7 separate regions of the Homo sapiens genome follow, and regions 2, 3, 4, 5, 6 and 7 are each reported to be linked to region 1. The links are microRNA targets in miRTarBase. Many come from high-throughput screens and were not tested one by one. Region 1 holds a microRNA gene; each other region holds the end of a gene's coding sequence. Distances are from middle to middle.

Region 1 (4,077 bases):
CTTGTAAGCATTAATTATTTATTTGCAGTTTATCTTGTTTTAAAACACAAATATTTGGCCAAAACAGGAGGAGTTTTACATCCTAAGGGGATGCAGCATTGAATGTTACTCTTTCTCTGCTAATTGGATATTTGAAAATAATATTTCGTTGTTTCAATTTGCATTCCTTTAATAGGGTGAATTTTTTTCATGTTTATGAGCAACTTGTATTTTTAGTGAATTGTTATTTAGTACTTATTAGGGTTTTGAGTTTTTTATATTTGTTATGAGCTTTCTTTATATTATTACAGATATTATAACCTTTTTGTCATATTTCATAGTTTGCTTAGCCAGTTGTTTGATAGTAAGTCTTTTTGAATTGTATGTTTATTTTAAAGTCTATGCAATGGGATATTGTCATTAATTCCAGTAGTCAGGTTATGTGTGCTTGCCTTCCTTCCTTTTTTCTTTTGTTTTAGGAGATTGTAAAAATTAATAAACAAGTGAAGTGAGAATGCTTGTTTGTAATAATTAAGAAAATAGTCAATTTAAGTTTCATAAGCATTTTGCAAACATTTATATACAGTTGATATGACTGAGATTTTATTGTTTCCTTTTTTGTTCATTAAAATTTGGCTTCTTTAAGGATGTCTATAAACAGCAATTATAAAGTTAAGCGTTTTAAAATTCCTACAGCGTAATGAAATACTATATCTACAGATTTGAGAAATTTGAGGGATCTGTATATGAGATGGCAATAGAATGAAACAGTAGAAACTAATACTTTGTCTTTAATTTTCTACAAATTTAATGTTTCTATTTCTGTGCACATGATACTTGCTTTATGTTCTTTTGTATTTAAACATGTTTGTATTTATTATCTTCTTTCTAGTTGTTTCACTCCTCGTGTGGTACTTGTTTAATATTACATATCAGTTACGTTATCTTGTCTACCTCTTATACCTAGAAATTAGTGGAAACTGGCAGTGTACCTGCTGTTTCTTGAGATCATGACAAGACAAAAACAAATCCTGTTGTCTCATTAACATATTTTAAAGTATATTTTTTAAAACTTAACATAATTGCATCTTCAGCAAAATATGAATAGTATAATACCCAGGCTCCTTCTCTGGAATTGTCTGGTTCCTCTTTCTTTCTAGGATATCAGTAGCAAAACATTTATGGGAGCACCACATGTAAGATGCTGAAGTGGTGTCTTTTTTTGCTTGGTCCTGTACAATCAGAGTACCACTTGAGGCCATTCTAATGCTGTAGGCTGAGGTAACTTGCGTCTTCATGTAAGTTACTTAATAGATTGTTAAATTTTATTTACTTTTTAATAAAGTAAAATACTTGTGAAAGCACATTTATCGGCACCAGGGAAAGAAAGTGTTGGCATTCATAATTGAAATCAACGAATCACCTACCTAACTGGGTTAGGGCCCTGGCTCCATCTCCTTTAGGAAAACCTTCTGTGGGGAGTGGGGCTTCGACCCTAACCCAGGTGGGCTGTAACACTGCTGTGTTTTCTAAGGGGCAGAGTTTTCTACTACTTTTCCGCTGGCCCAGCCTTCCAGATCACCCCAACCAGTGCTCCTATATAACCATCCTGTGCTCCTATAGAACTTTGTTTTGTACCTCTGTTTTAACAATCAGCACATTCTGCTTTGTATTATACCTATTTGTTTGCATGTCTGTCTTCCCTTAATAGATTGTAAGTTCTTTGAGGACAGGAGTCATGTCTTAGTCATCTATGTATGGTTCCTTGGAGTCTAGCACAGTGCTTTACCCATCTCAGAAAGTAAATTCTTATTTTAAAGTGATGAATGTGCTGCAACCCAGCTAGTGAAAAAGAACCCTACTGGGAGTTATCACAAGTTTTCTGACTATTAACATATGATAATATCAAAGGACAGGAAAGCAGAATCACCCAATTGTGGTAAAACTGTGAGTTACCAATTTTAAACATGTCAATATATAATAAAAAATACTAAAAAGCTTATAATGCCAATTCTCATCAGGTACAAATTTGATTCCTGAAATCACCAAGGGGAAAAATGTAAAATTACCTGAAATGCGTTATTTTAAAGATGTTAAAGGAAGAAACAGAAGTCCTCACAATTGACTTAAATATTCAAATCTTTGATAATTTACTTGAATTTCTGAATTGAGTTTTAGGAAACTCAGACTACTTTTTCTCAATGTAGCTTTTCCTTCATAGATAGGCAATTCTGGTTCAACCAGGAATTGTGATGACATCATAAACACGTAAACTCTTAGCAATTTATTTATTTTAAAATATTCTCTTAGAGTGCTTTTTACTTACTATCTGTTCCAAAAGAAACCCCCTCAAAGGAGAATAGAGTTCACTGCTCTTTGGGACAAGATTACCTTTATATCCAGCAGTTATCAAAGTTGGTTTAGATTATGGCCTCAAGCAAATTTTACTAAAATGTGAAAATATGCCACCTTCCAAGTCAGAAATAAACTTTGGAGTATGTTCATTTAAAGAGTTTTTACATATTTATAATTGAATTTCCACAATTAGAATAAACAGTTGCATGTCTTTTTGTACTTTGTTAAATAATGAAATGGAAGTAATGACAATATAACTTCAGGATTGTTATTTCTCTACAAGGTAAAGCACTTTAAGAGATCAAATTATACATAATAAAATATTAAGCTTTTTAAATGATAAACTCTAATACTGGCATGTATTGCAATGAACGAGTTCACACACTCATATCTTGTGGATTATAAAATGACATTATTCTTTTGGAAAGTATTATGTTATAAGAACCATAAGAAGTTCATACTCTTTGATTCATTAATTCTAGTCTTAGGAAACGATGCTTGAAAAACAGTTTTTAAAAAGTGTATTCAGTTTAGCTAATGTTTGTCACGTACCTCATACGAATTAGACACTGTGGTGGGAGCTGCAGATTAAAAAAATGAAAGGTTTAATGTTATTAGAAGAAAGATGTTTATTGCAGTCTTATTAAAGAGGAAAAGAAAAATGGAACAACCTTGATGTTCAACAATTTGTGAATGCTGTTAAATTAATATTTTGGCATATTATGCAGCTTTAAAAGTGATAATTGTACATACTTTAGGAAAATGTAGAGAAAATTTAAGTAAAAAAAATTAATTACATCAGCACTAGAATTATGTATTTAAAAAGTCTTATAGACCAGGGACAGTGGCTCATGCCTATAATCCCAGCACTTTGGGAGGTTGAGGCGGGAGAATTGCTTGAGTCCAGGAGTTCAAGACCAGCCAGGGCAGCATAGCTATACCCTCATCCCTACCAAAAAAAAAAAAAAATTAGCCTATTGTAGTGGCGCAAGCCTTGTAGTCCCAGCTACTCAGGAGGTTGAGGTGGGAGGATTGCTTGACTCCAGGAGTACAAGGCTATGGTGAGCTATGATTATGCCATTGCACTCCAGCCTGGGCAATGGAGCAAGACCCTGTCTCAACGGAAAATATATATATTATAAAGTAATGGAGATCATTATTTTATATTATGGCAGAATTTTGCCTGACCAAAATTGTCTTTTCCCTAAAAAACAACTATTATTTCCTAGCAAATTGGAAATTTCATATAATGATGTTATTCAGTATTTTATATTTTGGAGGTAGTCTTCTTCAAATGAGTTATTTTAGTAAACTTGTTTTATGTTTCTGTTAATATACTTTGATAGGTATTATTTGTGTTTTGCTATTGCAGCATTTAAAAAACTGTCCTTAATATACAAAGAATTAACACTTAATAAAAATGACAGCTTAAACCATAACAAAGTAAAATATAATGAAGATTATTTAAGGCTTGTTTTAAGTCTGTCTGAATTTCTTGTTTACTTCTAGATTTGCATGGCTTGAACGTTAGAATTGGGGGGAAAATAGCAGTTATCAAGGAAGGTAGCATAATATGTTAAGGACATAGACTTTGTGGCATATTTCTTGGTTCAAATCCTGATTCTTCCATTTACTGTTAATGTCATTTATACTCTGTATGTCTCACTGTGTTCATAATAGTAATATCTACCACACAGAGTAGTGAAGATCAAGCAAGACAGTATATAAATAAAACTTCAGTAT
Region 2 (4,077 bases), not on the chromosome of region 1:
ATGAGAGAGATGAGCCGAAGGCAGGAGGGAACGCCCTGGGAGGTGTTGATGCTGAGTTGGGGAGGCTCCTAGACGAACTCGCCCCCATCTACTGACTGTGCCAGTCTTACATTTTCAGGATGGAGTGGCCAAGGGATGATATAAACAAAGCCTACGTTACCGTGGGAAGAAGACAGACTGTTTTCTTAGCTGGGACGTTGGCTTTTGTCCAGGGTGGCTCTGGTGTGTGGGAGCAACAGGTCCCATTTTAGCAATTCTTTGTCAATGGTTTGAATTTTTTTTTTTTTTAAGATGGAACGGGAGAGAAGAGGCTAATTTTCGCGTCATGTTAATCTCACTTCTCTGGCATGTAAGGGTGCTGGTATGCCTGCTGTCTCCCCACTCCCAGTTCTGTGTTCCAGAAATTGAGATGGCTCCCTGCCTGTGACTATGATTAGGAGCCTTGCTTCATTTCAGAATCTCCCTTCAACCTGCTAGGGCAGGTATCAGAAATTCCAAAGGGCATTTATGTGAGGCACCTAATTAGAGCCTATCAAAGTAGGAAGGGAGAGCCATTTGAAAGGCATCATATTTCAAACTTTTGCTATTATCTGTGTTATCTTTACAGTCACGGGAACACACTAGCGCTACTGAAAAGATACTTATACAATTTTAAGTGTCTTTAAAATTTGTGTCCCATAATGGGACATCACCTGTTGTATATATGCCATGTATTCTATTTTAGAATCCTGTATCTTATGACCATAAAGTCATAGTCAAGGACCAGCAGTGTTGGTGTACTGTCAACGGAAGTGCACAGTCTCACTCTAGGATCCCACTCCAGACTTCCTGAATCAGACTCTGGCAGGGTTTTTTGTTTTTTTGTTTTTGTTTTGAGCCAGAGTCTCACTGTGTCGCCCAGGCTGGAGTGCAGTGGCGTGATCTCGGCTCACTGCAGCCTCCGCCTCCCAGGTTCAAGCGATTCTCCTGCCTCATCCTCCGGAGTAGCTGGGATTACAGGCGCCTGCCACCACACCTGGCTAATTTTTGTATTTTTAGTAGAGATGGGGTTTCGCCATGTTTGTCAGGCTGGTCTCAAAACTCCTGACCTCAGGTGATGGCGCCCACCTTGGCCTCCCAAAGTGCTGGGATTATAGGAGTGAGCCACCGCGCCGGGCCAGACTCTGGCATTTTAACAATCCCAGGTGATGTGTGTGCATGTGAAAATTTAAGTACCATTGGTCTAGATCCTACACTCTTTAGGATATCACCATCTGTAGGTAGAATATTTAAAGCATAATAGGTATGACTGATAGATTATTTTATCCAAAGTTCTTTTTTTTTTTTTTTGAGATGGAGTCTTGCTCTGTTGCCCAGACTGGAGTGCAGTGGCGTGATCTCGGCTCACTGCAAGCTCTGCCTCCTGGGTTCACGCCATTCTCCTGCCTCAGCCTCCCAAGTAGCTGGGGCTACAGGCACCCACCACCACGCCTGGCTAATTTTTTTGTATTTTTAGTAGAGATGGGGTTTCACCGTGTTAGCCAGGATGGTCTCGATCTCCTGACCTCATGATCCGCCTGCCTCGGCCTCCCAAAGTGCTAGGATTACAGGCGTGAGCCACCACGCCCGGCCCCAAAGTTCTAAAGTAACATTCTATTGCTAAAGAAATCCTAACCTACTATGTAACATTTTTCTCTTAGTTAAAAATGTGAACTTATTATTAACCTCAATTTTTTAGAGGCCTCCAATCTTTTTAAAATATAAATATTTTTGATTGACAAATCATAATTATACACTTATGGGGGTATAAACCTCAATTTTTGTAACCCTATTTTGGCATTTTCCTGTCCTTACATCTCAGCTTAAATGCTCCCTCTTTTGGGAGGCCTTTTTCTGCCTTCAACATAGTAGAGCCTTTTCCCCCACCCCTCTGTAACATAATGCCCTGTTTTATTTTTACTGCTTTTATTTTCATGCTTTGTGGGTGTCCCCACTGGAGTGTAAGCCCTATGGGAGCAAGGGCTGACCTGTGACTGTTTTATCTCCAGGGCCAACAGCAGTGTTACTGTATAGTATGTACTCAATAAATATTTGTTGGCTTTATCTCTTATTTTTTAATATAATAGCCTTGTGAACTAAGTGTCTGGCCTCTCTCAATCTCTCAGAGGCTCTGTTTAGTGAACAATAAACATCAAGGAAGTGCCTAGCAGTTCAAATCTTTGGTAAGCTAGACAGATCTGACCCTCAACGCCTTAAAAAAAAAAAAAAAAAAAGTGTGCCTTTGCTTCATACTGGAGCTGAACCTGTGGAGCTGTAGTGACCTCTACTGACTCTTAGGGGAACTAAGCAACTTGAAGGTGGAAAGGATGATCAAAAGGATGGCTGGAAGGCAGTTTTGAATCTTGATAGGCGCTCCTCCCACTACATTTCTGTCCAGTAAGTCCCACTCTCTCTGAAGTCAACCTGAGGCTACGTAGGTATCTGCTGCTCACCCTCCTTCTCTACAGAGGCCATGACATAGCTGGGGCTGGAAGAACCTCAGTTTTAGTGAATAATCTAAGAGATAAAAATGAGGAAAAGGAAAAAGTTGTAGGATTTTTTTAAAAAGAAAAGGCAGAAAGCAACAACCTTTCTTATCCCTCCCCCCAAAAACTCCCCCCCCCCATAAAAAATAACAGAGCACACAGAAAGGAAAGTATAATTTATATGTACAACCAATAAACCTGATACAGAAGAGGGGATCAGGACAGACCAGGAGTGGGTGTGAAGAGAGACTGGGAAAGGGGCAGCAAGAAAGTGAAGGGGCAGCAAAGAGGAAGTGGGGGGTTCGCCATGCAAACTGCCACTCTCCCCGGCCCCTCCTGGGAGGGGGGATGTGCCCACATTTCCCTAGCCTGCCCTCCACTATTTTGCTCTGGTCCCAACGACAAGGTAGCTCCCAAGACCCTGACTAGGTCCCCTGCCTGACTTATACAAATTTAGTCTGTATCCAGGCCTTGAGGAGGGAGGGTAGTAGAAGTCTTCCAGGAACCTGAGCCCCAGAGCTGGGCTTCCACCACATCTGGCCCATTGTATTCTCTCCCACCCTTCTAGGTTACCTGGGTCCCTAGAACAGGTTGGGGAGCTCCTCTTTGGCTTGAGGGAGTATCACCCAACCATTACTCTTTTTGTAGGGGTGGTCCTTGGTCCCTAGGGAGGGGGGAACATTCCCAACACAAGATGCCGGTACACAGGAGGTAACTGAGCCAGTGAACGGCACCTTTATTCTGAGGCTGAACAGCAGTTGACTTCCTCCCTCATAACTGCTCCACCCTCCACGTGGGGAGAGGTAGGGGACGGTAACATGCAGCCACCCCTCCTCGTCCCTTCCTCCCTCCCAGGGCTCATTTTCATCCCTCTCTAAAGTCCCCCTCCTCTCTTCAAAGCTCTCTTCCCCACAAAAGTTCCTAAAGGCCAGGCAAGGCTGATTCTCCACTTCCACATGAGACAGAGCTGATTCTGCAGGGAAACGGCTGGGGAGGCTCCACCTCTTTCCTCCCCACAACCATTTACTGGGAAGTTGTGTATACTTGGCAGTGTGGGAGGAAGGTACTTGGAAGACCCTGCCAGCCATCTCCCACCCAGACTTCTTCTCACCAGCACAGTCTTCAAGGCTTGGTGGGAAAGGTGTGTGGGAGTGGAGAAAGACAAAGGGCCCTTCTTGAAGAGAGGAGCTGCAGAGAGGGGCAAAGGGGTTCCTAGCCCAGTGATGGCCCAAGGGGTGGGGAAGGTGGAGGGCTGGCAGCAGGCCCCAGCGCTTGAGCTGGGGGTCGGCCTCGGGGACGGGGCCTGGGTGAAGGGCAGGCCTGGGATCCAGTCAGTCGTCTATACAGATCACCTCCCCGGCTCGGGGCTCCTTCCGATCCAGCCCGTCTGACACCAATGCCCCCACCATTTCCTTCTCCTTCTTCACAAGCACTGGAGGGCCGTTGGTGGCGGCTGTTTGGGAAAGGGGTAAGGAAAGATCAATCTCCAGATCACTCTCAAACGTCACTTCATGACAATGGTGAATTCTCACTTCTAGGTCACCTCCTGCCACTTCCCGTTGTCCCACGTGAG
Region 3 (4,000 bases), not on the chromosome of region 1:
CCTGATGTGTCTTGCTGGGAGGGATAGGCGGTGGCTATACGCAGGGAGATGTGAGGAGGTGAATTCAGTTATTAATGGTATCTTGTGAGGGTATCTGCAGGTATTTGGGGGCTGCTGGGGGACTGTGCTATCCTCTGACCTAGCCATTTCTGCTTCCTCTGCCAGCTGGAGATTCACATTTTACCTGATTGCCTTCATTGCCGGCATGGCCGTCATTGTGGATGTGAGTGGGGATTACTGGGAGGTGGGAGTAGGTTCTCTGGCAAGGTCAGGTGAGGCCATGGAATTTGGGTTCCTCCTCTTTTAACTTCTCACCATCTCTCTGCAGAAACCCTGGTTCTATGACATGAAGAAAGTTTGGGAGGGATATCCCATACAGGTATGAGTTCTGCTTCCTCATGTGGGGGTGGACTAAGACACACCCTAGTGAAGAGACGGTTTGTGGAATCCATGGCAGAGGGATTAGAGTGATGGAATGAAGAACCTCAGGGGCTAGGGGGTTTGTGGAGTGGGGACACCCTTGCGGCTGGTTGCTCTTACCTCTCTCTCCTCTCCCAGAGCACTATCCCTTCCCAGTATTGGTACTACATGATTGAACTTTCCTTCTACTGGTCCCTGCTCTTCAGCATTGCCTCTGATGTCAAGCGAAAGGTGGGTGAAGGGGTTGTGCAATTAAGCCTCAGAGCCAAAATGAGGCCCTGGGATGAACACCCTCTCCTTTGACTTCTGGGTACTCTGAATGGAGCTGTTGGTATATGGGGAACCAAAGGCAAGGGGTAAGAAGGCATAGTGAGAGCTGGGGAATAAAAAAAGGCCCTGGGGCCTGCATCATCTCTGCAGGATTTCAAGGAACAGATCATCCACCATGTGGCCACCATCATTCTCATCAGCTTTTCCTGGTTTGCCAATTACATCCGAGCTGGGACTCTAATCATGGCTCTGCATGACTCTTCCGATTACCTGCTGGAGGTCAGGCTTCCTCAAATCTAGAGACCCTGGTGCAGGTTCTTCTGTCCCTTTGGTTTTCTTTGGGAGGGAGGTGCGGGGTGGGAATTTGGAGGATGACATTCCTGGGACCAAGGAGGAGGGCACAGAGTCAGTGCTCCTAACTGGAGTGTACATATGAATGTACTCGAGGGAGTCAGGAGCCCATGATGATGGATGGGGGCTCTCTATGCAGTCAGCCAAGATGTTTAACTACGCGGGATGGAAGAACACCTGCAACAACATCTTCATCGTCTTCGCCATTGTTTTTATCATCACCCGACTGGTCATCCTGCCCTTCTGGTGAGTAGGCAGCTAGGCTACACTCCTGTTCTGAAGAAATCAGGAGCCTTGCCTTTCTTCCCCTCCTGTATCTCCCCGGTGTCTGACCTGCTCTTGTCCACGTTCTCTCTCTCCTTGAATCCTCAGGATCCTGCATTGCACCCTGGTGTACCCACTGGAGCTCTATCCTGCCTTCTTTGGCTATTACTTCTTCAATTCCATGATGGGAGTTCTACAGCTGCTGCATATCTTCTGGGCCTACCTCATTTTGCGCATGGCCCACAAGTTCATAACTGGAAAGGTGAAGCCCTGTTCCCATTGTGTAGGCCTTACTACTCTCTACAACTTCCTGAACTCCCATCTTGCCAGTAACTCTCTAAAAAACTAGTGTGGAGCCCTGGGTATAACAGGAACAAGCCCTCAGAGAGAAGCAGTACTTAGGGGTTTGAGGATCTCATGTAATAACCCTTCTTGTCCCTTTTCCACAGCTGGTAGAAGATGAACGCAGTGACCGGGAAGAAACAGAGAGCTCAGAGGGGGAGGAGGCTGCAGCTGGGGGAGGAGCAAAGAGCCGGCCCCTAGCCAATGGCCACCCCATCCTCAATAACAACCATCGTAAGAATGACTGAACCATTACTCCAGCTGCCTCCCAGATTAATGCATAAAGCCAAGGAACTACCCCGCTCCCTGCGCTATAGGGTCACTTTAAGCTCTGGGGAAAAAGGAGAAAGTGAGAGGAGAGTTCTCTGCATCCTCCCTCCTTGCTTGTCACCCAGTTGCCTTTAAACCAAATTCTAACCAGCCTATCCCCAGGTAGGGGGACGTTGGTTATATTCTGTTAGAGGGGGACGGTCGTATTTTCCTCCCTACCCGCCAAGTCATCCTTTCTACTGCTTTTGAGGCCCTCCCTCAGCTCTCTGTGGGTAGGGGTTACAATTCACATTCCTTATTCTGAGAATTTGGCCCCAGCTGTTTGCCTTTGACTCCCTGACCTCCAGAGCCAGGGTTGTGCCTTATTGTCCCATCTGTGGGCCTCATTCTGCCAAAGCTGGACCAAGGCTAACCTTTCTAAGCTCCCTAACTTGGGCCAGAAACCAAAGCTGAGCTTTTAACTTTCTCCCTCTATGACACAAATGAATTGAGGGTAGGAGGAGGGTGCACATAACCCTTACCCTACCTCTGCCAAAAAGTGGGGGCTGTACTGGGGACTGCTCGGATGATCTTTCTTAGTGCTACTTCTTTCAGCTGTCCCTGTAGCGACAGGTCTAAGATCTGACTGCCTCCTCCTTTCTCTGGCCTCTTCCCCCTTCCCTCTTCTCTTCAGCTAGGCTAGCTGGTTTGGAGTAGAATGGCAACTAATTCTAATTTTTATTTATTAAATATTTGGGGTTTTGGTTTTAAAGCCAGAATTACGGCTAGCACCTAGCATTTCAGCAGAGGGACCATTTTAGACCAAAATGTACTGTTAATGGGTTTTTTTTAAAAATTAAAAGATTAAATAAAAAATATTAAATAAAACATGGCAATAAGTGTCAGACTATTAGGAATTGAGAAGGGGGATCAACTAAATAAACGAAGAGAGTCTTTCTTATGCCTTCCTTGCAGTTATGTAATATTTTCTTTTTTAAATTTCACATGCATGTAATTTGAGCACTTTGAGGGGCCAAGGAGGGTGGATCACTAGAGGTCAGGAGTTTGAGACCAGCCTGGCCAACATGGCGAAACCCCATCTCTACTAAAAATACATCTAGCTGGGTGTGGTGGCGGGCGACTGTAATCTCAGCTACTTAGGAGGCTGAGGCAGGAGAATCACCTGAACCCGGGAGGCGGAGGCTGCAGTGAGTCGAGATTGCACCATTGCACTCCAGCCTGGGTGACAGAGCGAGAACTCCATCTAAAAAAATTCACATGCAAGAAGCAAAGGTAGACAAGGTAGAAGATGAATGACAGCAGCCCACAGGGGAGGATGGGGATAATACCTCACTGAAAGATCCAGAATTGGGAGTATCGGGCTGAGAGAGAGAAACAAAACCACAATCTTAGTTTTATCATATTGTTAAAAGACTTTCAAGAAATAATACAAACTGGAGATAGTAGATACACAGGCTCCATTCTAAGAACAAAGTCTGTTAGAAGCAGGAACACTTGGACAAATATGGGATGGGAGGGATGTCAGGCCGAGGTTAGAGTGGTGATCTCTCCCCACCCTTTAGGGCCTTTGGAGGTGGAGAAGGGATCCTGCCTGCTAGCACCACATTGGAAGGGATCATCTGGTCCAGAACCCCCATTTCTATCAACTAGGAGCTGGGGGGAGTAGCTAGCCCAGAGACTTCGGGTCAGGGTTCAACAATCAGGAAGACCCAGTTCCTGAGGAAACGACAGTTCAAGAAGGGTTGGGAAGAAGGCTGTCCTCTAAAGAAGACGTCCTCTGCATTCAATGGCCCCACAGCAACAGAGTAGCTCCTTGCCTTCCACACTGCCCACCTCGTAGTTGTAGTCCCAAGTAAGTTCTGTCCCAGCCCGGATTCTTCTGAAGAGGAAGAAAAGGATGGTGTGTGGCAAAGACAGCAGATAACCCAGGCACTTGGGGTTACTGAATATGTAGGTGGAGTTGGATCATGAATGGAGGAGGGGCCCTTAGAACTTCAGTGGTCCTTGCCCCTCCCCAGTCATCCCCTTTCCTGACTCCTTACTTGCTGGCAAAGAAGGCCACCCAGGGGAAGCGAAGATCATG
Region 4 (4,077 bases), not on the chromosome of region 1:
AATGAACAGTACGAATCCTGCAGCTCCACATAGCACAGATTTGTCCCAGACACAAATGCCTGGTTCACTCATTGTCCAAAACACCCCCACCCCCAATGTTCACCCTTCCAGGAGCCACCCTACCAGCAGCTCCCCTTAGTCTGTGCAGGCAGCCCTGGGCCCTCCCTTGGGAGGGTGAGTTGAGGCATGGGATGTGGCCTCACTGCCCTCCTTTCCTCAGAAGGCTCTTGGGCCTGCTCTCTGCAGGGCCTTGAGATGGCCCTGCTTCGTCCTAGCAAGTGGGTGGGGTCGGCACCCAGGCAGGACGCTGTCTAAGGTGTTGAAGGGACAGCTGTCGGACCCACTTAATATGGGGCCTTGCTCTCATTTGGGACAGAATTCAAGAAGACAGACAAGAGTATCTTGGTCAGTCCCACGGGCCCTTCTCGAGTGGCCTTCGACCCTGAACAGAAGCCCCTCCACGGGGTGCTGAAGACCCCCACCAGCTCACCTGCCAGCTCACCCCTGGTGGCCAAGAAGCCCCTGACCACCACACCAAGGAGAAGGCCCAGGGCTATGGATTTCTTCTGAGGAGCAGCAGAGTCCCTTGTAAAAGACTGCTTTTGTACAGAATGCGCTATAAATTATACCTTTAAGAATGTGGGGCCTTTTTTATGATTTTGTAAGTTCCCATAAGTTGTGTGCACGAGGTTCTGAGAGTGCCCGCAGGCTGCTGCGTCCTGGCCCCTCTGTAGTGGCTGCGGGCGTCTTGGTTGAATCTTTTGCTACAAACCATGTTTGCGTTTGAGCTCTCCAGGATTTTACATTTTTGGGTAACCTCAGTGATTCCCATTGGTGTAGGAAATGAGACCCTCTCTGAAGCTGAGGAGAGCACGTTGATCTGAACTTTAAATCAATCAGTGCTGCTGGCACAATGAAAGGTGGAACTGCACTTCTGTTGAGCTCTCAGTTCTGCGGAATTTGGTACTCATTACCGTATTCGCCGTACTAAGTTGGTTTCTGTTAGTCTTAACAGTCTGTTTTCTTTTAAAAGCATGTAGGGCTTCATTGCCATGTTCTGTGGGTGTTTGGCAGGTTACCGATGGGGAAGATTCTTGTCACAGAATCAGCAATACCATAGTTTTTCTACATGTGCTCAGCTGGGGGTGTGGACAGGTAGGGGTGGGGAAAGAAGAGGCTCTGCGTTCTGGGGGCTTTTTCTTCTCCTCCCCCTACCCGGTTTCCCTCCCTGTTTTCCTACCTCTACGGCAAGCCCAAAGTGTCTTCCCGGGAGCCCAGCGCAGCCCCCGGCTCTTACCCAGGACCCCGCCCCGTGCTGAGCCTTCTGCTGAGGTCCTTGCGTGGAGCACACTCATTCCTCCAAGCCCTTGCGCTCCCGTTTCTCTCTCTCTCCGTCCACGTTCCAGCCGAGTCACTGCCTGACCGGCTCCATGGCAGCTCCCCATCTTCCCTAGAGGCTGCCTGCGCATCTGGAGCCTGCGCTCCGGCTCAGCGACCTTTCCTCTCAAATGCGGAAGCGTGCACTTACAGTTCAGACCGTTCTCCTGTAAGTTCATTACAAACACGGGCGGAAGGCACTCAGGCTTTCGTTGGAGAAACAGAAATAAGGCCTTCTTTTGAGCAGCGATTGCTGGATCATTGATCTGTTTGAGGAAGTGTCTGACCTGGGCCTGAGAGCTGGAGAAGGTGCAGATTCAAAGTGAGCGGCTCCTGAGGAGAGCCGCCAAGGCTGCTCGCCTTCTCCGTGGCTTCCGCAGCTACCGTCTGCACGGTGAGAGGGCACGGGCACACGGTTCGGGCTGGCGTGCAGCTCTCCCAGCCAGCCACGCTCTGCTCAGGCCTGGAAGTGAAAGCCGCCTCCTTCCCGTTATGCCCCCCATACAGGAGCCTCGGTTTTTCAGCAAAACGCGGCCAGTCCCCTTCTCCACTGCTGCCTCCCAGCAGAGGGCCCCAGGATCTCCAAGGTCCCAGCTATGGCTTTGGACAACGTGGCTTCGGCCCCTGGGGTTGCAGAGCTTGCATTGGGTTTACCTCGGTCTCATTCATTCATGGAGCCAAGGGTGGGGTTTCACCTGCGAACATCAGACTGACTTGCTGGCGTCAAGAGCAGTTGACTCACTGATGAAGGCCCTGGTGAGGAGAAAGCACTCTGTTCTTCGCCTACTCTGTAATCGTTTTGTCATAATGAGCCATGAAAAAAGTAATGAACTTGTGCTGTTAATCGTCACTGTAATGAGAAGTCTTACGTACAACATAGCTGTGGTGGCTTAATGGCTGCATTAGATAGGATCCTCACATCCCATTCAGAACCAAAACTGATACAGTGAAACAATTAAGGTGAGCAAATAGTTTTAACTTTTCTTTTTTTTTTTTAAGTTTCATTCTTCCTAGAATATTTTTCTAACAATTTTTATTTCAGCTTTAAAGATGGGTCATATAGCCAAACGGGCCATATAATCCAACATTGTTGAGATGTCTTAGGACATCTAAGGCAAAACTGGCACATTTGTTCTGCAGACTATTGCAGGAATGTTTTTTCCTAGCATTTCTATATTATCTGTCCATTCTGAGGAACCAGTGAATGTCCTATAAATGCACCTCCTGTCAAAACCATGCCTGAGAGGTCCCGGCTGGGAGTGACAGGGTGCTTCTTAGATTCTATTGGTCCTTCTCTCATTCTCCGAACTTACTCCTTTTTATGGGTAAGTCAACTAGGTTTACAGTCCCTTATTTTTAATGCCTAAGTTTTGACAGCAGGAAGAAAACAATTTTTTAAAAATTCTCATTACATAGACGCACAAGAATATGTCACATAAAGAAAATGTGTTTAGAATACTGGTTTTCTATTTACGCATGATATTTTCCTAAGTAAAATTGCCAAGTGGACTTGGAAGTCCAGAAAGGAAAATAATTTAAATTAATGCTGGTGATCTTAACAATATTTTGTAAAATGATGCTTCCCCCTTCTCCATGGTCTAGTCAATTTTGTACAATTAGGTATCTGACTTTACAAGTTTGTTATCCTTTCTAATTTTTACTGAACTGAAAGCACAAAGAAGACTACACAGAAAATCTGGAAACAGTTGCAGGTGTTGGGAGGAAGATGAAATCGAGCTGTCTTTTAACTTTTGTATGTGTTTTATCAGAATTTGCTGGACTATGCTGGCAAGGACTTTGTTTACGATCAAATTGTACTAGTGTCTGCAGGGTTTGTCAGTACTCGTCAAAGCCAAGTCCAATTAAAAAAAAAAGTCTTTGCCCTCCAATTTGTGTTTGATGTTGACTTTCAGTATGGGTAAAAATAGGCCTCTTTGGGAGCTGTTCCAGCACAGCAGAGTTGGGAAGATATTGGTGTTGGTCGGGTTTGAAAACAAGACTCTGGGTACCATTCTCTTCATCTCTCTGCTGCTGCCAGAGCCGGTGGGGGCGCTGCTCCGGGGATCGTCTCCAAGTGCTTGAAGCAGGCCTCACTGCGCACAAATGCCCTTGCTCACTATCGTGTCTAAAACATCACTCCACAGGCCTACGCTTGTGACGATGAGCGGAGAAGTGCCAGTGTCCCGGGTGGAGATCTCCCACTGCAGCCCAGAAACTGACTCCAGCTAGGGTGAGGCGGGCACAGGGAGGCTGCAGCTGGGTGAGGCGGGCACAGGGAGGCTGCAGCTAGGGTGAGGCGGGCACGGGTGGGCTGGTACCCAGCAGACAGCCTGTTCTGGGTGTTGGCAGTGGGTGTGGTCAGTGTTGGGCAAGCAGAGTACAGGCATGGCGGAGTCTTTATAGGCCCGTGTTCCCCGAAACAAATTTTTCACCTGTTCTTTGGATCCCAGACAAGTCCACAGACAGACACTGAACAAGCAAGCAAACAAAAACAAACCCTGGGCCAGGCGCGGCGGCTCACCCCAGTAATCTCAGCCCTTTGGGAGGCCTAGGCAGGCAAGTCGCTTGAGTCCAGGAGTTTGAGACCAGCCTGGGCGACATGGCAAAACCGTGTCTCTACAAAAAAAAAAAAAAAACAAATAATTAGCCAGGCGTGGTGGCGTGCATCTGTAGTCCCCGCTACTTGGGGGCCTGAGGCAG
Region 5 (4,070 bases), 51 Mb from region 1:
GGAATTCCTCAAATGGTCCCTCCCTGCAAGGGAATGTAAAATGCTGATCCATGTTGCAGTAGTGATTGAGAGTAGAAAGGTTAAGCCAACAGAAGACACATTTCATGACTCGAGTTAGAGAAGACATAAAAAGAAACCATGAACAGACTGTGAGGTGTAAAATTAGAAATTTGGAGAGATCCACCAGTCACAGTGGCTCACGCCTGTAAACCCAGCACTTTGGGAGGCCAAGGTGGGCGGATCATGAGGTCAGGAGATCAAGGCCATCCTAGCTAACATGGTGAAACGCCATCTCTGCTAAAAATACAAAAAACTGGCTGTGGCACGTACCTGTAGTCCCAGCTACTCGGGAGGCTGAGGCAGGAAAATCTTTTGAACCCAGGAGGTGGAGGTTGCAGTGAGCTGAGATCGCACCACTCCAGCCTGGGCGACAAAGTGAGACTCTGTCTCAAAAGAAATTCGGAGAGATTTAAAGTAACCTTTTATTTTTTGAGACAGAGTCCCGCTCTGTCACCCAGGCTGGAGTACAGTGGTGCAATCTCGGCTCACTGCAACCTCCGCCTCCCGAGATCAAGTGATTCTCCTGCCTCAGCCTCCCAAGTAGCTGGGATTACAGGCATGCACCACCATGCCCTGCTAATTTTTATATTTTTAGTAAGAGACGGGGTTTAGCCATGTTGGCCAGGCTAGTCTCGAATGCCTGACCTCAGGTGATGCACCCATCTTGACCTCCCACAGTGCTGTGATTACAGGCGTGAGCTACCACGCCCAGCCTAAACTAACCTTTTACAAAGATCTAATCTTCCATCTCATTTTTGTGCTTAGACTTTTGAAATCTTTTAATTCAAGAAGTCCAGGAGTCCTGAGGAAAAAAAATGACAATGTGCTTTTATTTTTTTTCTTGTTAAAAAAAAACAACATTGGTAAATCGTTTTCATTAAATAGACCTTTGTGATTTTACTGATTTACATGAGTGGCACTAAATTACATGATTTATAAGGCTTGACACAGGAAGGATACACTGAGGTATATGGTAAGAAAAGGGATATGAATACTAGAGAAATGTTAAATTGATAACTAAGGCACACTTTCGGATGTGAATCATAAATCTACCACTGTGGCTAGAACAGCCTATATGTACATGGATTCTGAAAGACATGATCAGTTGCTGGTAAAAGTAGAGAGGGCCTGGGCTTCTGCCAGTCCCCTGGTACTTCCCACACCACTTCAGAGAAAAAGCATCATGACACAAGCACAGTAGATGGTAGAGGCCCCCAGCACTGAGTCAGGTGAAGCTACATGGTTCGCTGTTTAGTTACGTTTCCAGTACTTGGTTTAATTTCACAGTGAGGGAGTCGGTTGGTGATCTCTAAGAAATCCCCAAGCACCTGGTGTTGGGAAAGTCCCTCAAATAAAGAAGTGTTCTTTTCTTTTTTTTTCCTCTCTCTCTCTTTCTATTTATTTATTTTTTGAGATGGAGTCTTGCTCTGTCACCCAGACTGGAGTGCAGTGGCAGGATCTCAGCTCACTGCAACCTCCACCTCCTGGGTTCAAGCGATTCTCCTGCCTCAGCCTCCCGAATAGCTGGGATTACAGACACCCACCACCACGCCCAGCTAATTTTTGTATTTTTAGTAGAGACGGGGTTTCACTATGTTTTGTCAGGCTGGTCTCGAACTCCCAACCTCAGGTGATCCACCCATCTCAGCCTCCCAAAGTGCTGAGATTACAGGCGCAAGCCGCAGCGCCCAGCCAAGAAATGTTCTTTAAACATCACAAATAAACATACTGCATCAGGGACTTGTAGGGACAAGACTGATTAACCAGGGGCTGAAATCCCCATATCAGAAACCCCAGACAGTTAAAAATAGTAAGATATCACTGTAAGAACAATTTAAAGAAAAACAAGTTTACGGCAAAACAGACTACAAATCAATTTCATTATAACTAAAACTCCTTAATTTAAAAATACAGTACTAGAAGATCATCCACCCAGAGATTTGTATTTAGTAGGACCTAGATTTGCTAGTGTTGGGGAGACACTTCATACAGTGACTGGAAAGCAGCACCAGAGATTACATAAAATGAAAATATTAGTACTGCCACAGGACTTTCAAAAAGGAGGGGGAAAATTAATGAAAGTGACATGCATCAAACAAATCAAGAGGCAGTGTTGAGGTCATCTCCACGGAGCTGTAAACTCAGAAGTGTTTCCTGGTCATATATGGTCAATTAGGGTCAAGTCTGAAATCATCTAGATAATGACCTAGTTTTCCAGCTCACTCAGAGCTAAAATCCATAACACTATCATACTTTCCTTTTAATTTATGAGATGGAGTCTTGCTCTGTCGCCCAGGTTGGAGTACAGTGGCGCCATTTCGGCTCACTGCAACCTCTGCCTTCCAGGTTCAAGCAATTCTCCTGCCTCAGCCTCCGGAGTAGCTGAGACTACAAGCGCATGCCACCACACCCAACTAATTTTCATATTTTTAGTAGAAACGGCGTTTCACCACGTTGACCAGGCTGGTCTTGAACTCCTGACCTCAGGTGATCCAGCCGCCTAAGCCTCCCAAAGTGCTGGGATTACAGGCGTGAGCCACTGCACCCAGCCATCACACTTTCTTTTTTTGTTATTGTTTTTCTTTTGTTGTTTTCCTATTTCTACCATCACACCTTCAAGGATAAATTTGCTGGTTGCATTCACATATTCATAACCAGTTCCCCTGGTTATTCCACCTATTGCAGATTAAATCACGTATATCAATCCCAACATCTTAGAGGAATACAGTCTTTTCATGTTACCCAACAGAGGGGTTGAGAGAGTGGAGGAAGGAGGCCTCTTTTAATGGGTTTTTTTTTTTTTTTTTTTGAAACGCAGTCTTGCTCTGTCACCCAGGCTGGACAGCAATGGTGTGATCCTGGCTCACTGCAACCTCCGCCTCCCAGATTCAAGCGATTCTCTTGCCTCAGCCTCCCAGGAAGCTGGGATCACAGGTGCCCACCACCACACCCGGCTATTTTTTGTATTTTTAGTAGAGGCGGGGTTTCACCGTGTTGGCCAGGCTGGTCTCGAACTCCTGACCTCAGGTGATCCACCAGCCTTGGCCTCCCAAAGTGCTGGGATTACAGGCATGTGCCACCCCACCCGGCCTTAATGGCCATTTTCTTAAAGAGAAATAGTGTTTCTTCAAAAGTCATCATCAAGCGAAGGTCTTGGCGAGGATATCTTCATGCTGGTGCAAGTGAACTGTGCCAATTCCTACAGCGGGTACTGGCAAAGGGGGCCGGCCCACCAGACGGAGCTATAAGTGCAGCAGAGAAGAAATAAAATGACATTTTGACTAGATCAGAGCTCTGCTTAGTTCCAACAAGACAGTGCATGTATTTCTCTTAGCTTGTTTAACCATAAATCACCTCTTTCAAATAATGAGTTACGCAGAAGAGATTAGAGGGACAGGGCTCCGTGCCTCAATGCCTGTAATCCCAGCGCTTTGGGAGGCCGAGGTGGGCGGATCACGAGGTCAGGAGATTGAGACTATCCTGGCTAACATGGTGAAACCCCGTCTCTACTAAAAATACAAAAAAAATTTAGCTGGGTGTGGTGGCGGGCGCCTGTAGTCCCAGCTACTTGGGAGGCTGAGGCAGGAGAATGGCGTGAACCCGGGGGGCGGAGCTTGCAGTGAGCTGAGATTGCGCCACTGCACTCCAGCCTGGGCAACAGAGTGAGACTCTGTCTCAAAAAAAAAAAAGAAAGAAAGAAAGAAAAGAAAAACAACATGCACACAAAACACAAAACACTACCAGAGAAAACGTGTGATTACCTTGCAGGCCAGCTGCTTTTCAAACCTTGGAGAAACAAACGACCACGGACCCATGTTCTGAGGTTCCTCCTGACTCCAAATATGATCTATGAGAGAAGAAATTCTTTCAGCACCTCAAGTAGACACATGCAGACGGTCCCCAATTTACTATGATCCCACCTACGATGGAGTTTTCAACTTTACGATGGTGTGAAAGGGATTCACATTCACTAGAAACTGTACTTCAAGTACCCATACAACAGTTCTGTT
Region 6 (4,062 bases), not on the chromosome of region 1:
GAATCCTTGTACCCCAAATAATGTTGAGGTTCTGGAAACTCGATCAGCATTTCCTAAAATAGAAGATACAGAAATAATTTCCCCAGTAGCTGAGCGTCCTGAAGATCGCTCTGATGCAGAGCCTGAAAACCATGTGGTTGTGTCCTATTGTCCACCCATCATTGAGGAAGAAATACCAAACCCAGCCGCAGATGAAGCTGGAGGGACTGCACAGGTTATTTACATTGATGTTCAGTCGATGTATCAGCCTCAAGCAAAACCAGAAGAAGAACAAGAAAATGACCCTGTAGGAGGGGCAGGCTATAAGCCACAGATGCACCTCCCCATTAATTCTACTGTGGAAGATATAGCTGCAGAAGAGGACTTAGATAAAACTGCGGGTTACAGACCTCAGGCCAATGTAAATACATGGAATTTAGTGTCTCCAGACTCTCCTAGATCCATAGACAGCAACAGTGAGATTGTCTCATTTGGAAGTCCATGCTCCATTAATTCCCGACAATTTTTGATTCCTCCTAAAGATGAAGACTCTCCTAAATCTAATGGAGGAGGGTGGTCCTTTACAAACTTTTTTCAGAACAAACCAAACGATTAACAGTGTCACCGTGTCACTTCAGTCAGCCATCTCAATAAGCTCTTACTGCTAGTGTTGCTACATCAGCACTGGGCATTCTTGGAGGGATCCTGTGAAGTATTGTTAGGAGGTGAACTTCACTACATGTTAAGTTACACTGAAAGTGTTCATGTGCTTTTAATGTAGTCTAAAAGCCAAAGTATAGTGACTCAGAATCCTCAATCCACAAAACTCAAGATTGGGAGCTCTTTGTGATCAAGCCAAAGAATTCTCATGTACTCTACCTTCAAGAAGCATTTCAAGGCTAATACCTACTTGTACGTACATGTAAAACAAATCCCGCCGCAACTGTTTTCTGTTCTGTTGTTTGTGGTTTTCTCATGTGTATACTTGGTGGAATTGTAAGTGGATTTGCAGGCCAGGGAGAAAATGTCCAAGTAACAGGTGAAGTTTATTTGCCTGACGTTTACTCCTTTCTAGATGAAAACCAAGCACAGATTTTAAAACTTCTAAGATTATTCTCCTCTATCCACAGCATTCACAAAAATTAATATAATTTTTAATGTAGTGACAGCGATTTAGTGTTTTGTTTGATAAAGTATGCTTATTTCTGTGCCTACTGTATAATGGTTATCAAACAGTTGTCTCAGGGGTACAAACTTTGAAAACAAGTGTGACACTGACCAGCCCAAATCATAATCATGTTTTCTTGCTGTGATAGGTTTTGCAAGCCTTTTCATTATTTTTTAGCTTTTATGCTTGCTTCCATTATTTCAGTTGGTTGCCCTAATATTTAAAATTTACACTTCTAAGACTAGAGACCCACATTTTTTAAAAATCATTTTATTTTGTGATACAGTGACAGCTTTATATGAGCAAATTCAATATTATTCATAAGCATGTAATTCCAGTGACTTACTATGTGAGATGACTACTAAGCAATATCTAGCAGCGTTAGCTGTCCATATAGTTCTGATTGGATTTCGTTCCTCCTGAGGAGACCATGCCGTTGAGCTTGGCTACCCAGGCAGTGGTGATCTTTGACACCTTCTGGTGGATGTTCCTCCCACTCATGAGTCTTTTCATCATGCCACATTATCTGATCCAGTCCTCACATTTTTAAATATAAAACTAAAGAGAGAATGCTTCTTACAGGAACAGTTACCCAAGGGCTGTTTCTTAGTAACTGTCATAAACTGATCTGAATCCATGGGCATACCTGTGTTGCAGGTGCAGCAATTGCTTGGTGAGCTGTGCAGAATTGATTGCCTTCAGCACAGCATCCTCTGCCCACCCTTGTTTCTCATAAGCGATGTCTGGAGTGATTGTGGTTCTTGGAAAAGCAGAAGGAAAAACTAAAAAGTGTATCTTGTATTTTCCCTGCCCTCAGGTTGCCTATGTATTTTACCTTTTCATATTTAAGGCAAAAGTACTTGAAAATTTTAAGTGTCCGAATAAGATATGTCTTTTTTGTTTGTTTTTTTTGGTTGTTTGTTTGTTTTTTATCATCTGAGATTCTGTAATGTATTTGCAAATAATGGATCAATTAATTTTTTTTGAAGCTCATATTGTATCTTTTTAAAAACCATGTTGTGGAAAAAAGCCAGAGTGACAAGTGACAAAATCTATTTAGGTTCTCTGTGTATGAATCCTGATTTTAACTGCTAGGATTCAGCTAAATTTCTGAGCTTTATGATCTGTGGAAATTTGGAATGAAATGCAATTCATTTTGTACATACATAGTATATTAAAACTATATAATAGTTCATAGAAATGTTCAGTAATGAAAAATATATCCAATCAGAGCCATCCCTAAAGAGTGTTCTCTTGTCTTCCTTTGTATCCTCTTTGGCTCCTTCCCTTAGCTTCCACCCCAGACATCAGACCTGGGGCTGCCTTCTCTCCCTGCCAAAGCTTGCTGTTAGCATTGTCTGCTTGCCCTCAACTCCTGCCTTGTTCCCTGTTGAAATGTATCAATCCCGTACTTTATCTCTCCAGGACAAGGATAAGTGTGGCTACAGTAAAAGTTTATTGCTCTAAACGGCGCTAACCTGAGATAATGAGAAAAGGCCAGAAGAGATTGTTTGATCTCTGTCTGTCAATATATATGCATTTCAACTGTGACCATCTGGATCCAGGGCCCTTTCTAACCTATATAACGACTCATTTGTTTGGTTAATGATGAATATCACTGGGGCTCTTAAGTCCTTTCGTTCTATCCAAGACTTCATTGTTTTTTTCTGTATGAAAAAAGTGCAGAATATCACTCACCTTTCCCCTACTTTTGGATCCCCTACACGAGGATCACTAGCTTAATGAGAAGCAGAGTAACGCTATTAAGTCTGGGCAAGCTCCTTATAAGTTGCTGTGTGCTTAAAAGAATGTGATTTATGTCTGGGGCCAAAGCAGTTTTCCTTCTTTTCCCTCATTGAATTCAAGACAGCTAGACCCTTGTGTAGATCCCAGGATATTACCTCTACTCCCCCCAACCTGTGTGTGTAGGGAGAGTAACAACACGGGAAGAGGGGAGGGAAGTTGGAAGGAGATTGGTCACATGTTCAGTTGTCTGAGATACTGGTAAATGTGCGCTGTTTGTCAATGAAGGTTGCATGCCTGCATTTACAAGGTGGTCTCATACTGATTGTGCTCTGTCCAGTTAGATTCGTGGCTTCTCCCTTGGAAGCTACAATTAAGGACTAGTTAGAAGCAGAGGCTAGATGTGTTCTCTCCAGCCCTTACTAACTGGGAAAATAATTGAGAAATCCCTCTTTTCCTCAGTGAAAGCCCAGTCATTGGTTAGAAAAATCTAATTGTCAAACTAGCATTATGTTCCATCATATCTGTGGGATAGTAATTCATGTAAGACACATTTTTACCTCTCTTACAAGTCAATTCACTTACAAGCCAGTTTCAAATCAAGCTTCCCTTGCGAGGAATGGAGATCATTATGGGGCTTATTATGACTACATTTCTTTTATGAGTGACCATTTTAAATAATTAATATTTTATTTAATATTAAATTATTAAAGACTTAGCTAGACTTTTAACATTAGATGAACCTTGTGAATCATATATTGCATAGATTAGCACATGTATGCAATCTAGGTCATCAATTTGTTGAATTTATACAGCCCTAGATTTGAGATTGTGGCCCTGAGTATCTGGATAGTTGAGTTGTGTGTTTATGTGCTTATATGATAGAGGTGCTTTGTTCCTGCAGCTTAGAAACAGAAGCAGCCATTCACTGAGAAGCTTAAGAGAGGAAGTATCAACCTCATTTTCCAAACCAGCATTACTTTCACCGCTCGTGGATCTGAAAGATTACATTTAGAACATTTAGTACTATTACACTCTCAGAAACTGTGGTAAAAAGTCACATTTTCAAAACTTCATGCATATTGTATTCTTGTTGGAAATAAGTCCTATAGTTTCTTAATTGTCTTCATGCCGTCCATATTTAACAAACATTGCAAGTCCTTTTTATATTT
Region 7 (4,077 bases), not on the chromosome of region 1:
ACTCTGTCCCCTAGTTAGTAAGATCTCATTCATCTCTGGACATACAGATTTAAGCTTTAGCAAGATTCCACGTGAACAGAGTATTGGTTTTATGTTTTGAAAATCTTACTAGATACGTTGGCGTGTTCCCACATCCCCATAACACTCACAGGCCTCTGATGAGGGAATGCCAGAAATGGGTCTGAGGGCAGCAGGTGCTGCGGAGGCACTGTAGGAGCGAGGCCCTGTCCCGGGACACCCATCCTGCTGGGGATTCCCTGGAGCATCTGGTCCTCCTCAGCTGAGGCTGTCAGGTGAAGAATCTCTGGAGCTGGATGTGGACAAATCCATTCACAAGACAAGACACGGGGATGGGCAGTCTCCTTGCTCATTGCACTGTTTTCCCTGGCTGGATTCGTTTGATCACTGCTTCTCTAAAGAGCCCTAAGCTCAGAATTTAGCTGCTTAAACACATGGTCTTGTCTCTCTGATTTTTTTTTCCTTTTTCATCCAAGTAATTTTGTGAAGGGGAAAACATCCTCCAATAACAGCATTTCCCGGGGACTCTCCTCCTGGCATGCCCACTAACCGCACCTGCACCCGGCTCTCTGACTGATGCCGGCTCCACCAGCGGTCCGGTCTGGTCCGGTCCGGTCCAGTGCAGGGGGTCTAACGGTGTGTTTATTTTCTCCTCCTGCTCTGTCTCTACCCAGAGTCTGAAGGAAGGCCTGACGGTGCAAGAACGGTTGAAGCTCTTTGAATCCAGGGACTTGAAGAAAGACTAGGTGTGTCCCATCCAAGTTGAGCACGCGCCTTCCCCAGCTTGCAGCAGCACACCCCAAGCGCTGCTTTTCACCTGTACCTTTGTTTTATTATTATTATTATTATTGCTGTTGTTGTCATCGTTAACTGTGGGCATGGAATGCGTGAGGCTGGCTTCTGGGTTGTCCACACCACTCTCTGCTGTGTTGACTTCCTGTTGTCTTCATCAAAGCTTTTTTCCGTGGTATTCTAAAATTAGGCCAGCAGTGGGGGCTGGGAGGGCATCTGTGTTAGTCCTTTCCTGGCTGTGACCCGCCACACTCACTGTCAGTATTAAGGCCCAGCAGCCTGTTGATAAGCTACCCTGTCTCACCATGTGCTGGTGTGGAAACGGGGCCCAGCCAGCACGCCTCAAGGTAGATGGAATCCCCACTGGTCAGAGAAAAAGCTATGCGGACACTCCAGCTTGGCCTGGGTCACAGCACTGACTCCTCACCCGCTAGTCTGGCTGTTAAGAGGAGAAAGTGCACTGCCTTCCAGCCCAGGAGGAGGACAGCATTTTGTATTTGTTCCACTGATGCAGCTTAGAACCACACCCCTGAGAGTCGTGGCAAACCTTTCACAACCTGGAAAATGTTGAAAGCAACCATTCCTATTTTTGTTTGTTTTTTATTAAATCTTGCACAAAATCCCCGGCCCCTCTCCTTCCTTCCTTCCTTCCTTCCTCCGCTCGTTCCTTTCTTGGTCTCCAGTAACCCTGGTCTTTTCATAACTGCTCGAGATTGTTGACCTGCAGCCCAGGTTTCAGACTCTGATTGCAAAAAACAAATGAATTCCCCCCAGGAATCATTCAAAATGGGGGAAGGTTTGGGGGTTTGGGTTTTTTTTTTACCTTTTGGAAAAGAAACCGTCACATTGCTTTGGAAAAGGTTGAGAGGAGACCCCTGTTAAGTCAAGAAGAAAGTACAGAGGATGTCAGAATCTGATGAGAACAGCACATTAGTGTTTATTGAGACTCCGATCTTAACTCTCATTTAATTAATCTGAGCTCTGAAAACCTATCTTGCAGCATTTATCTTTAAAAGAGCCTGGTTAAAGTAAACCTATACTAACAATTTTGCTTTTTCTAACAGTTTGAGGAAGACCTTTTTAACCACCACAAAACATTCTATGGCAATTCTTGAAAATCTCTTAAATTGGAGTCTATTATGGCCCCATGAAAACCATTAATCCCATTAAGATAGGGAGTATAAACCCCTGGCTGGTGGAACAGGTTCTGCTACTTTAGGAGCAAGGTGGGGTGTGAGTAGATGGTTTTCATGCCAAGAACATGCTTTCACTTTGTATTCATGCTTGTGTTGGTGTGATGGTCTCTGTGGGTGGGTGGATGCTTTGGGCGTTGAAATCTAGAAATCCTGTTGCTCAGTTTCTAGATGAAGTCATGAGCAAGGCCATCAGTGGAGCTCTGGCCCCGCCCCCAATGTGCAGAAGGGCCGGGAGCAAGGCCTGGAGTTTTCATGTGTTTTCAGACCCAGGTTTAGGTGCTCTCTTCTCACTGAAATAACTAAGTGCTCTCCACTGGCATCGAGCCCTTTCCACAAGTTTTTAAGGCTCTTAACCCACACTTTCACTCCTCTGCTACTAGTCTTCAGTGTTGTTAACAGCAAGAGAAAATTGGGTTTGTTTAAAAATCTACTTCTCTGAGGTGGCACAGTTGCGTAGCTGTAGTCCCAGCTACTCAGGAGGCTGAGGTAGTAGGATTGCTTGAGCCCGGGAGGTCGAGGCTGCAATCAGTCATGATCGTGTCACTGCACTCCAGCCTGGGTGACAAAGCAAGGCCCCATATCAGATATAGATATACTTATCAGACCCCCCCTGACCATTTAGATTGGCAGTGCTTTGAGAAATGCACTATGACCTTTCTGTGTCAATGGGAATATACAGAAGGAACATTCGGGACCCCGCTGTCCCCCACAGCCTCATTGTTGTCTCCAGGACACTGCTGGGTCACACGAATGCTCCAGGACAGACAGGGACCTGGAGTGCATCAGGATCTGACCAGATAGGAGTTTTTGCCTCGTGTCTGGGTGCTACGATTTTGTGCCGTTCTCTGAGGTCCACCACCTGCCCTTCCTGGCATGGTTTCCTTCGTGACCATCCCTGCTGCCCCTGGGGGTGGACCCCACTGGCCCTTCTGCAGACAGCTCCCTGCCTTCTGCCCTCCAGGGGGTTCTGGCCAGAGTCCATGCTTGGAGACAGGATCATCTGCCTTCAGCCCTCACAGTGCTTTAAATTAAAGCAAGTTTGCCCATAGGACAAAAGAGCATTTGATTCCCTTTTTTCTGTCACATATCCCTTGAGGCTGGACTTCAGGAATCCTGGAAAATTAATATGAGTGCAGCATGTGAGGGGTCAGAGACAGGCCAGCAGGGCGTCTGCATTCCTCCCTGCCACAGGTCTCTCCCCAGAGGCTGGTTTAGTGTAGGGTATTGCCAGGAAACGGACTGAGGCTGCTTTGCTAAGAGCTCCTGAAAATGCCCTGGGCCTGTCCTGGCGTTTCTGAAGAGCCCTCATACAGGGACAGCCACCATCTGGGTCAAGGAAGTCTGGGTTCCCTGCTGGTGGGCTCCATCCTGCGATGGAGTGAACCAGGCGAGAAAGGATGACGATGTTCTTCATGTTGCACCTGGACATGCCCCAGGAACAGAGACTTGCCCAGGTGGCAACACTGGCACAGATGTTGACGGCTGCCCAACTGGTGCCACACTGAGCAGGGAGCCTTGTGCTGCACAGGGCTGGGCCCTCTCTCCAGTTTCCTTCCTGCAGGCATCCAAATACCCTGGAAGGGATTTAACCCCTGAATTCCAGAGGGAAGAAAGAAGAACAGTGAAGAAGTAGAACTGGTTTCTGTATGGGGAGAGGAAAGTCTTAGGGACAGCTGCAGGCGGGGTCTCAGGCTGCTCCTTGGCACCAGCTACACAGTAGTGAGCTTTCCCAGCTTTACCGATGAGGAAGAAGTTCAAATAGATAGACTTCAGCATTTTAATTATTTTCCTATAAATGTATTTATGTGTAGTATGCTAGCACCAGCCAGTAAGCTGTGCCACACATATGAATGGGAAAGCGAGGCAGTTGTGCTCGTGTGAGTTTCTGCAGGCTTGTGGGTAATTACCTTGTGTGCACGCCTGCACGTGCAGAATAGTCACTTTCTGCTGGTCAGTTTCTTTATCCACCCATGGTGCCCCAGCCCCAGGCAGGTGTGGAGACCAGCATTTCAGAGGACGCGCTGTCCACAGCCTCCCGGGTCTGAGTGGATCATTGGGCAGGGGTGGAGAC

Evidence for each region. Region 1 holds the annotated microRNA hsa-miR-1296-5p (UUAGGGCCCUGGCUCCAUCUCC, at 1,416-1,437, shown strand). A microRNA usually pairs through its seed, bases 2 to 8, with sites in the 3' UTR of a target mRNA and lowers its output. Matches are read on the target gene's strand: a 7mer-m8 pairs with bases 2 to 8, a 7mer-A1 pairs with bases 2 to 7 and ends in A, and an 8mer does both.
Region 2: the mRNA of CHD3 is a reported target of hsa-miR-1296-5p. The part of its 3' UTR that is shown has no 7-base or 8-base seed match.
Region 3: the mRNA of SETDB1 is a reported target of hsa-miR-1296-5p. Seed matches in the 3' UTR shown: 8mer at 3,476-3,483.
Region 4: the mRNA of RRP1B is a reported target of hsa-miR-1296-5p. The part of its 3' UTR that is shown has no 7-base or 8-base seed match.
Region 5: miRTarBase lists DHTKD1 as a target of hsa-miR-1296-5p. The part of its 3' UTR that is shown has no 7-base or 8-base seed match.
Region 6: miRTarBase lists LIFR as a target of hsa-miR-1296-5p. Seed matches in the 3' UTR shown: 7mer-A1 at 1,358-1,364.
Region 7: the mRNA of MPRIP is a reported target of hsa-miR-1296-5p. The part of its 3' UTR that is shown has no 7-base or 8-base seed match.

The regions. Positions count from the first base shown.
Region 1 is chr10:63,370,372-63,374,448 of GRCh38, reverse strand. MIR1296 (microRNA 1296) reads left to right here and starts at 1,401; the gene lies at 1,401-1,492. All of the region lies in intron 2 of JMJD1C (jumonji domain containing 1C), which reads left to right.
Region 2 is chr17:7,911,344-7,915,420 of GRCh38, reverse strand. CHD3 (chromodomain helicase DNA binding protein 3) reads right to left here. Exons shown (of 40, transcript NM_001005273.3): 40 at 2,666-3,957. The coding sequence ends at 3,836. It overlaps RNF227 (ring finger protein 227), which reads left to right. Exons shown (of 2, transcript NM_001358699.2): 2 at 1-2,082. Among named protein-coding and RNA genes, the nearest start is that of RNF227, 2.9 kb to the left of the region's middle. RefSeq lists an enhancer at 1-414.
Region 3 is chr1:150,964,043-150,968,042 of GRCh38, reverse strand. SETDB1 (SET domain bifurcated histone lysine methyltransferase 1) reads right to left here. Exons shown (of 22, transcript NM_001366418.1): 21 at 3,960-4,000; 22 at 3,306-3,796. The coding sequence ends at 3,679. It overlaps CERS2 (ceramide synthase 2), which reads left to right. Exons shown (of 11, transcript NM_022075.5): 5 at 166-223; 6 at 329-379; 7 at 559-651; 8 at 841-969; 9 at 1,181-1,287; 10 at 1,414-1,567; 11 at 1,755-2,857. The coding sequence ends at 1,895. Among named protein-coding and RNA genes, the nearest start is that of CERS2, 8.8 kb to the left of the region's middle. RefSeq lists cis regulatory regions at 2,554, 3,190 and enhancers at 2,481-2,625, 3,118-3,262.
Region 4 is chr21:43,692,814-43,696,890 of GRCh38, forward strand. RRP1B (ribosomal RNA processing 1B) reads left to right here. Exons shown (of 16, transcript NM_015056.3): 16 at 377-3,266. The coding sequence ends at 570. Among named protein-coding and RNA genes, the nearest start is that of PDXK, 24 kb to the right of the region's middle.
Region 5 is chr10:12,120,019-12,124,088 of GRCh38, reverse strand. DHTKD1 (dehydrogenase E1 and transketolase domain containing 1) reads right to left here. Exons shown (of 17, transcript NM_018706.7): 16 at 3,822-3,907; 17 at 868-3,302. The coding sequence ends at 3,201. Among named protein-coding and RNA genes, the nearest start is that of SEC61A2, 7.6 kb to the left of the region's middle. RefSeq lists enhancers at 1,371-1,460, 2,201-2,250, 2,311-2,450.
Region 6 is chr5:38,478,128-38,482,189 of GRCh38, reverse strand. It overlaps LIFR (LIF receptor subunit alpha), which reads left to right. Exons shown (of 20, transcript NM_001127671.2): 20 at 1-4,062. The coding sequence ends at 595. Among named protein-coding and RNA genes, the nearest start is that of EGFLAM-AS5, 12 kb to the right of the region's middle.
Region 7 is chr17:17,184,131-17,188,207 of GRCh38, forward strand. It overlaps MPRIP (myosin phosphatase Rho interacting protein), which reads left to right. Exons shown (of 24, transcript NM_001364716.4): 24 at 693-4,077. The coding sequence ends at 764. Among named protein-coding and RNA genes, the nearest start is that of PLD6, 20 kb to the right of the region's middle. RefSeq lists enhancers at 671-1,171, 1,959-2,158, 2,189-2,258.